Homo sapiens: one gene and its partner. The protein of the gene in region 1 purifies or fractionates together with the protein of each later gene. This does not show direct contact. Each region holds a gene or a part of one and is shown in the gene's direction. Other genes may lie near its edges.

Region 1 (4,872 bases):
TTTTTTTTTTCTTTTTTATCTTACCCTTTTAAAATATTTCACTGTTAACCTCAAAAGTAGTCTCTTAAAATTCCTTGGTTGCTAATACATTATCTTCTTTAAAATTGGCTGTTTAATTGATAATATTAGGTTGTACCAAATTATATTATTGTGACTACAGTATAATTTTACAAAAATTACTGGTTTTAAGTTGTAATCATAAATTTGTACAGAGTGGTAATAATGTTCTTGGTTTTTTATTTTGCTTCAGGAGGCATTTGGCTTTATTGAAAGAGGTGATGTTGTAAAAGAGATATTCTTTCACTATAGTGAATTTAAGGGTGACTTAGAAACCTTACAGCCTGGCGATGATGTGGAATTCACAATCAAGGACAGAAATGTAAGACAGTCAGTTAACTTGATCTTTGGCCTTTTAAGATCAGAGTTGGTTTATGTTTTTAAGAAACACTTAAAATTATGTGATTCTTCCTTCCTCTGTCCCCCCACCACCTCCAACCCCTTCTGATTTAGGGTAAAGAAGTTGCAACAGATGTCAGACTATTGCCTCAAGGAACAGTCATTTTTGAAGATATCAGCATTGAACATTTTGAAGGAACTGTAACCAAAGTTATCCCAAAAGTACCCAGTAAAAACCAGGTAAATAATCTTTTTCAGGAGAGTCCTATTTCGCCTCAGTAGTAATAGAATAATATGGTGTGGTATACTGAGATTTTATCTTATTCAGTTAATATAATGTGGTAGTGGAACAACTAAGGACCTCTTGTTACGTATATTTAAACTAAAAGAGAAACCAGATTTATATATTCATAAATATGGTGTTTTTTTTTTTTTTTTTCTTTTTTTGTGACAGAGTCTCGCTCTGTCGCCAGGCTGGAGTGCAGTGGCGCGATCTCGGCTCACTGCAACCTCCGCCTCCCGGGTTTAAGCGATTCTCCTGCCTCAGCCTCCCAAGTAGCTGGGACTACAAGGGCATGCCACCACACCCAGCTAATTTTTGTATTCTTAGTAAAGACGGGGTTTCACCCTGTTGGCAAGGATGGTCTCGATCTCTTGACCTTGCGATCTGTCCACCTTGGCCTCCCAAAGTGCTGGGATTACAAGTATGAGCCACCTCGCCCAGCCAAATATGTATTTTTTTTTACTGGGTGATGAAAAAAGGCCAAAGAAGAAAATGCTAATTAAATTGGAAAGCACCTGATTGGATTAGACTGCAGTTCAGGTGTACATTTGTTCCCTCCTCTGCCCCTGCCCTACCCCTCCAGTTTGTGGGGAAGGTGAGGACACAAGTGGTGTCATTCCTGGAAAAATTCCTTAAATAAAATCTTTTGGTACCAGAGTGCTGGGTCTTAATTGCATTGTTGTAATTTTATGGTTGACTCGTGTGACCATAGACCATGAAGCTTTCACATTGGACTTATGTTGTCAACACCTTTTTTCGCTTCAGGGAACTAAGTTAAAAATAACATGGGTTTACTATGTGTTCTTCTTGTTTGACTTAGAACTAGGAAGGATGAGAAATCTCCAGCTAAAATCGTTTTTCCTTCTCATCAGAATGACCCATTGCCAGGACGCATCAAAGTTGACTTTGTGATCCCTAAAGAACTTCCCTTTGGAGACAAAGATACGAAATCCAAGGTGACCCTGCTGGAAGGTGACCATGTTAGGTTTAATATTTCAACAGACCGACGTGACAAATTAGAGCGAGCAACCAATATAGAAGTTCTGTCAAATACATTTCAGTTCACTAATGAAGCCCGAGAAATGGTAAGTGTTGGATATTACTGGATATGTATCTAATATGCGAAAGCCAATGTTATATTCAAGTTTATACTACTAAATTAAAATTTTTCTTAAGTTAAATGACCCTAATGGGCATTTACCTTGTTAAGGTGATTAAGAATCATACACATTTGAGTCAGTCTGGGTTATCTCTGGCAGTTATCTTGGAAATATATGTGAAAAAATTTTTTGAATGGAAATCTGGACAGGATTACTAAGATATTTTTAGAGTCAGTGATTCTCAGGCCCTTAATATGAAGAGTAAGAAAATTCAAGTTCATCATTGTAGAAAGTAGATTTTCCCAAACTATTTCCTAAGACATTTAATTAGTGGTTTCTGTTTTTAGGAAACACAATTCTTCCTCCAGTGTGGTCCAGGGAAGCCAAAAGATTGAACACCCATGATCTAGACACTAGATCACACATAAAATACACTAACAGCAATGATAGCTGATGAGCTTTTTTAAAAAAAAAATCATAGGCACGGTGGCTCACACCTGTAATCCCAGCACTTTGGGAGGCTGAGGCGGGTGATCACTTGAGGTCAGGAGTTCAAGACCAGCCTGGCCAACATGGTAAAACCCCGTCTCTACTAAAAATAGAAAAATTAGCCAGGTGTGACGGTGGGCACCTGTAATCCTAACTACTCAGGAGGCTGAGACAGGAGAATCGCTTGAACCTAGGAGGCAGAGGTTGCAGTAAGCCAATACCATGCCGTTGCCCTGCAACCTGGGTGACAGAGGAAGACTGTCTCAAAAAAATAATTGCAAAAACATCTCATCATGTTTTAAGAAGGTTTAACAATTTGTTGTGTTGGGCCACATTCAGAGCTGTCCTAGGCCATGGTTTGGACAAGCTTGCAATTAAACCAGAGTCAAAAAGGTTTTGTTTTGGCAGAACTTCACAAATTGTTTTTTAAGAGTTTGTGTCTGGGAGTGGCATAAACCAACCAGATTTTTTCCCAAACATGTTTTATGAACTCATTTTCTCAGACATAATTTGCATTTAGTTACGTTTGGGATCATATCATCTACACTATAACTCAGTGTTGCCAGTGGAACTGGGTACATTGAATGAAAATTTAAGTTTCTTGAGTTTTTTTTAATCCTTTGCCTTTGAAGAACTGGTTGTATTTGACACAGTGTATTTAACTTTAAAAGTTTGTAAGTCTGAATGTGTGATTTTTTTTTTTTTTTTTACATTTTCAAAGGCAAGATCTGTTTTGCTTTACGGTATGGAAAATATAACTTGGCTACTGTCAGGACTTGGCAAGGATTAAATGTCAAAATATTGTTTAGGTCATATTTAAAACTTACAGAATCACTTCTGCAGTGAGCAGATATGTAGTATGTAATACAATAGCAGATTGATAATTTGTGTTCATTGTTTCATTAAACATGAGTATCTACCATGTTCCAGGTACTCTTGATACAGTAAGCCTTACAAAGCTGATAATTTAGTAAGAAGGAAAAAAAAAAAAGAGAAAAGATTGCATATATTTTATTCTTCAGATGTAAATTTTAACTCTTTCCTGGGCCTAAACTCATGCAATTTTTGAGGTAGAGACTGGAGAAGTGCCTTTGTCTACTTTGGAATTATGGTCTGTAAATTAGTGAAGTTTCTGGAGATTATATTGTCATTAGACTTGGGCTTTTATGAAATACATTGTGTTCACGTGTTTACGTTCACATGTGGTAATTTTTTCTAGTGCATATTTGCCAGGAAGTAGCAATTGGAGAGTCTTAGAAAATTGCTCAGGTTAAGTTACTTTGTTGAAAGCAATGAGTTTGTACTTAAGTGAGAACAGTTCAAATGTGGATACAGTATTTGTGTCACATCAGAGAAAATTCCTGATGAATTTAACTTGATGGTGGTTGTAAAGTTGAATGTTGCCTTCTTGACAAGTTTCACAGCCAGTGAAAATATTATTTGGGTTTCAGGGTGTGATTGCTGCCATGAGAGATGGTTTTGGTTTCATCAAGTGTGTGGATCGTGATGTTCGTATGTTCTTCCACTTCAGTGAAATTCTGGATGGGAACCAGCTCCATATTGCAGATGAAGTAGAGTTTACTGTGGTTCCTGTGAGTTGTTTCTGAGAAAAGTTGGGAGGTGTTTCTTGATGCTTTCTTTTTCAATTGAAAGTTAATTTTGTTTTATCATTTTTAGGATATGCTCTCTGCTCAAAGAAATCATGCTATTAGGATTAAAAAACTTCCCAAGGGCACGGTTTCATTTCATTCCCATTCAGATCACCGTTTTCTGGGCACGGTAGAAAAAGAAGCCACTTTTTCCAATCCTAAAACCACTAGCCCAAATAAAGGCAAAGAGAAGGTAGGTTTTGCATAATCCAAATGATTTTTGTAGCTGTTTATTTCTCTTCTGCTTTAACAGCACATAGTAATAGAGTACATATAATCAGCGGAAGTTTGTCTCTTTCAGAATTTCTGTCATATTAACAGTGAACTAAACAAAGTAAGGTTTCTTAACCTTGGGATTATTGACATTTTGGGATGAATGATTCTTTACTGTGGGGGATGGGATGTTTAGCAGCATTTCTGGCCTCTACCCACTGGAAGTTAGTATTCTGACCCCTTTTCCCTGCCTCCCATTGTGACAGCCAAAAATGTGTCCAGACATTGCCAAATGTCCCCTGGGAGGCAAACTCATTCCAAGTAGAGAACTAGTTATATAAAATGATAGTACTGTCTTCCAGGCAATTTAAAACTTTCAAAGTTGGGTGTATCCTCAGTTCACACATTTAAATTTCATTTATTGAAAAATCCACTAAATAGGAAATAGAAAGATGTCTGAGATGAATTCTCCTTTCAAGTTAATAACAAATTGAGAGTTTTATAGAAACAAGTAATTCATATAGAATATAAAATATTGCTATTGAAGGTCAGCGATAGTGCTCTGGTGAAAATTAACTGGTAGGGTATGTGATGGTTTTACTAACAGATGGAGACAGGAAAGAGCATTCTTCACAGAGTAAAAGTATAGATGAGAAAAATTCAGGGTTTCTTTAGGAAGCAATGAGTAACTAGTCCGACAGGAATTTTTTTTTTTTTTTTTTTGGTTTTGTGTGTGGGTTTT
Region 2 (4,872 bases), about 72 Mb from region 1:
GCAGATGATTAAAAGAACAATGTGGAATGGACAACAAATGGGCAAAATCAAGCTTAAGGACAGAATCATTGCCTGATGAAAAACTGTTCATTAATCAATCATAGAGTATTGTGGAAACACTCAGAGTAAGAGATAAGCATTTGGTGATCTATTCTCTACTTTTGCAATTGTGGGAAAATATTTTGTTTCTTCCAAAATCTTAGGATTTTCCATCTTGTTATATACTGTTTGCTTTCCTGGCTGGCCGAAACTACGTTTTTCATTAATTTTTTGATAATGGCTTACTAGCAAGAAGGAAGGGAATGCTTATATATAATTGGCATACTGATAGCTTTTTAACTGATCTCTCTGAACTTTCTAGTGTTTTAGTTTGTATTTCTGTCTTACTCTGATTATCGTTACTAGTCTAACCCTTAAACCAGTGGTTTTCAAATTTAAGTGTGCTTACCTTGGGAGGGTGTGATGTAAGTGGTGAGTTCCTCCTTCTGAGCCTTGGATTCATTAGGTCTGGGTACATTTTTAACAGGAATGATAATGGTCTTCGGGCCATACCTTCAAAATCACTGCTTTTAACCCTTGACCCAATGTAATGGTAACTCTGGTGTGCAAATTTGCAGCCTTTTCAGCGGATAGATTGCAGGTTTTGTATGTGTTGAAGAAGTTTTAGCATGTGCCTTGTTTCGCTGCATTTTTTTTAAGTAGGCATAGGTTATGACATTTTTTGAAATCAACAGTTTTGTCCAGAATAAGAGTAATATCTTTACATTTTTTAAGTATTTAGTCCATGAGATACTGTTCATTGAATATCTCTATTCTGAATTGGAATCAACTCAATTGGTCATCCTCCAGGGCAAGTTATGAATTGGCTTTTGATGGTCCTTTGTTTGGACTATCCTAACCTCAATTATTTTGTCAAATTAACTGGTTAAAATGTTCTTTATGCTTCTGAACTGGTTTTAATGATTCTGGGACTTTTTTAATAAGATGCTGTAAAATCTGACTCCAATTAAATACAGGGAAGATTTGCTTTAATTAAGGAAAATGTATGTGATAAAAGAAATCACTTTGGAAGCTAGCAGTTGGTTCTATATGTAGTTCGTGTAGTGGAACAAATAGACTTGGCTGGAGGCACCTGTCTCTTATGAGGGAGGGAGACAGACTGACACATAACGTGCTGTTTTCTGTATAAAGGAGAGGGTGCAGTGTTCGGGATGACTATTGTGACGACTTTTAATTGGGGTTTTTGGATGCGCTGGATTATATATGCTAGGATTGTAAGGAATTTTTATAATTACAATATTGTATGTAAATTTTCTGCCTTTAAAGACATAATTTCATTGTAAATGTGTTTATTCCAGCCTGAATTACCACCTGATGAATTGTTACAACCTTGTTAGAATTAATTCATGAAAGGGCTTCTCCCTGATGGTTATATTGTGAAGAAGGTGCTAAGTAACATGAGCATAGAGCTTTTAAAAATAGCAGAAGTTTTGGCTTTATTTTGTTAGACTGTGTAATCTAGAAATTCTAAGAAATTCATTGAGTTATTCTTTTGTGAACTGTGTCTACAAAACATAATCGGAGAATGTGACTAGAGGGGTTTATTAGCTCCCCCCAGATTACTGTTGAATTTTGTTAGTGGTTGAGTATTGATCCATATTCACCAAAGATTACCATGAATTGGCAACAGTTTATAGTGACCAGAATAGGAATATTTTTCTGTTTCCAGAGTACTTAAAATGTTTAAATTAATAATTCTTAATGTTTTGAGGTGAAAGAATTTGGAGCAGAGGTCACAAATTTGTGACCTTCTGGCTAAAACTACTCCCAGATGCTTTGATTAGACAGTACAGTATTTTTTAAAGGAATTGGGATTAATTACTAACATTTATAATTCAGGAGATAACACCAAGTAATCCAGATTATTATATTTTTAAGATCTGAACTTTAGCTGGCTTTGGGGGCCTGTATTTCCACATAAGTAAAAACCACCTGGCCATATTGTCACCACATTTAGGTGGGGTATACTTTTTTTACGACAGCCTTCACGCCTGGCCTCTGTGTATGCATTTGAGTTTATTACCCATGGTCTAGGAAGATGTAATAAACCAAGCCAGGGAAAGGTTTGGCTATCTCTCTTTAGTCACGCCTATCAGGTTTAGTCTCCCTTTGGGGTGGGGGCTCCCTTGTGGGGATTCCATATGTACATAACTGATAGGTGACTTCCAACACATGTTGGTGAAAATAGATACAGCTAACAAGTATTTATACTAGGGTCTATAGTAAGTGCTTAAAATGAGCCAATTTACTTAATCTTTAAAAACCTTTGAGGCGTAGGTACTGTCATTCTGAGGCACAAAGGAGTTGTTACTTGTCCCCATAAGCATAGGTGATAAGTGGCAGGATTGGAACTGTTTTTTGACTCTGGAGTTAGTGTTCACCAACTGCTCTTATGCTGTCTCTGAAATAGACCCTAGCCATTTTCAATTTGGTTGTTGTCCACATAGTTACAGATAATTTCTTAGGGTGATTATTTTTAGCCGTTGAAAGACTCTTAAATGATCCAAGTATGTCACTGGGGCTCTTGTCTGCTGACTTGCTAGGTCCTGGATTTGAAAAGTTTTCTGCCTTTCACTATCTACTTTGTGAAGTTTGGGATTGTTAAAAGTTCTAGTTTAGCATGTAGGTCAGCTATACAAATAAAAGGACTTGCTTAATTCCTGATACTGGGAGGTGAAGAATTAAAGGAGAGAATGTTGCACCTTATCTCCCTTAATCTTTTTTTTTTGTATGGCCTGCAAGGTAAGACTGAATATTGCCTTTTTAAAGGGTGATTTTTCTTGAGATGGAGTTTCACTCTTGTCACCCAGGCTGGAGTGCAATGGCACGATCTTGGCTCACTGCAACTCCGCCTCCCAGGTTCAAGCGATTCTCCTGCCTCAGCCTCCCGAGTAGCTGGGATTACAGGCGCCCGCCACCACACAGGCTAATTTTGTATTTTTAGTGGAAACAGGGTTTCTCCATGTTGGCCAGGCTGGTCTCAAGCTCCTGACCTCAGGTGATCCACCCGCCTAGGCCTCCCAAAGTGCTGGGATTACAGGTGTGAGCCACTGCGCCCGGCCTCTAAAGGGTGATTTTTTTTTCTTTTTTAAAGGTGGCGGTGTAAAGTACTTACTGTGTGGTTGTTGGTTGTTTGAAGTGGAGTCTCTCTGTGTTGCCCATATGGGTCTTGCACTCCTGGGCTCAAGTGATCTTCCAGCTTCAGCCTCCCAAATGTGTGGTTCTTAATAGAAGTGTAAACCTTTGGAAGGATGTCATTACCAAAAATCTCTTGGGCTGTTAAAGTCACACTGATCTTAACTTGATCACAGTAGATCCATTGCTAAGCCACATAAGTCATGGGTAGACCGTAACATAACTGACAAAATGTTTTGGCACTAGGGAAGGTTTAAAGACTTTTCTGCAGGTGCTGCTAAGGGAGAGATGTCGAAGGTTCCAAACTGGAACCCTAAAGACAAACATCAATGACATGTATGCAGGAGACATTAGGAGAGATTTGTATGCTGGTTATATTAACCATTGATCTTAAGCTGGCAAGAAGTCATCCGTGTTCACCAAGTCACTGATACGTGACTTGGAGAATACTAGTAGGTCCCACTCCCTGTGTCCTCCCAAAGTACAATCCTTTACTCTTGAAATCTAGGATAGAGAACTAGTATCCAGTTTGACTCGTGAACAATGTGAGTTTGAACCACACAAGTCCACTTACACACAGATTTTTTTTGATAAATATATTGGAAAAATGTTTGGAGATTTGCAACAACCTGAAAACTTCAGATGAACCACATAGCCAAGAAGTATCCCCCAAAATAAGGAAAAGTTGAGTATGTTGTAGATACTAGTCTGTTTTATTATTTACTACCATAAAATGTACACAAATGCATTAGAAAGTTAATACAGCCATTTGCAGTTGAGAAATGTAAACAAACATAAAGATTCAGGCAGCATTAAATCATAACTGCACGACATTCACTGTAGTAATATTGTACTATTATAATATGTAGCCACTGCCTATTGCTACTGCAGTGAGCCCCTTAAAATGCCATGTGACGCTAATCATCTTCACATGAACAGTTTATCTCTCCAGTAAATTGCATGTCAGTAAAAAGAACTTGTAGTACACAGGTATTGTGGTTTAGTGCAATACTGTAAGTCTTCAATAGCACCATGGGACCCATGCAAAGTGGCGCTAGTGATGCTGAGAAAAGTCATGGCATTGTAAGAAAAAGTTCAGTTGCTCGATATGTGCTATAGATGAGGTCTACAGCTGGAATTACCTTTCAGACAGATGTACACTTACCGTATCGATAAGTGCAGTACTGTACATGTATTTTCTCTTACAACTTTCTTAGCATTTTCTTTTCTGTAGCTTTATTGCAAGAATACAGTATATAATACATATAAGACAGAAAATGTGTTAAGGATTTATGTTACCAGTAAGGCTTTCCAGTCACGAGTAAGCCATTAAATTTTGGAAGAGTCAAAAGTTACAGGCAGATTTCAACTGTGCAGCAGGTTGGCACCTCAAACTTCTATCCACCCTCATAGATACTGAGTTATTCAAGGATACACTGTATTACCTTCCTGTCCCCCTAGTCCTGGGGCTGCAGTTGCTGAGTTTGCTACCCTCCAGTCTTAGCCCTTGGAAACATACAGTTTGTCCGAAGGCAGAATCATAGACAATATGTGGGAAACAGAAGTGAGTCTGTTGGGTGTGAAGGGTGTTTAATAGAGAAGAAATACAAAGATAAGTGGACATTATTATCTTACAGTCATCTACAAGGCTTGGAAATTGGTATCTGGTTGCTTTAG

The links.
Region 2: the proteins of CSDE1 (region 1) and YBX1 purify together in Homo sapiens (co-immunoprecipitation; 3 studies listed by BioGRID and IntAct, with this or other methods). This does not show direct contact.

Annotation. Positions count from the first base shown.
Region 1 is NC_000001.11:114,729,496-114,734,367, reverse strand, and holds part of CSDE1 (cold shock domain-containing protein E1), read left to right. Parts: intron 1-250; coding exon 251-379; intron 380-510; coding exon 511-636; intron 637-1,551; coding exon 1,552-1,764; intron 1,765-3,719; coding exon 3,720-3,860; intron 3,861-3,945; coding exon 3,946-4,110; intron 4,111-4,872. UniProt on the Homo sapiens protein: RNA-binding protein involved in translationally coupled mRNA turnover.
Region 2 is NC_000001.11:42,684,460-42,689,331, forward strand, and holds part of YBX1 (Y-box-binding protein 1), read left to right. Parts: intron 1-4,872. UniProt on the Homo sapiens protein: DNA- and RNA-binding protein involved in various processes, such as translational repression, RNA stabilization, mRNA splicing, DNA repair and transcription regulation.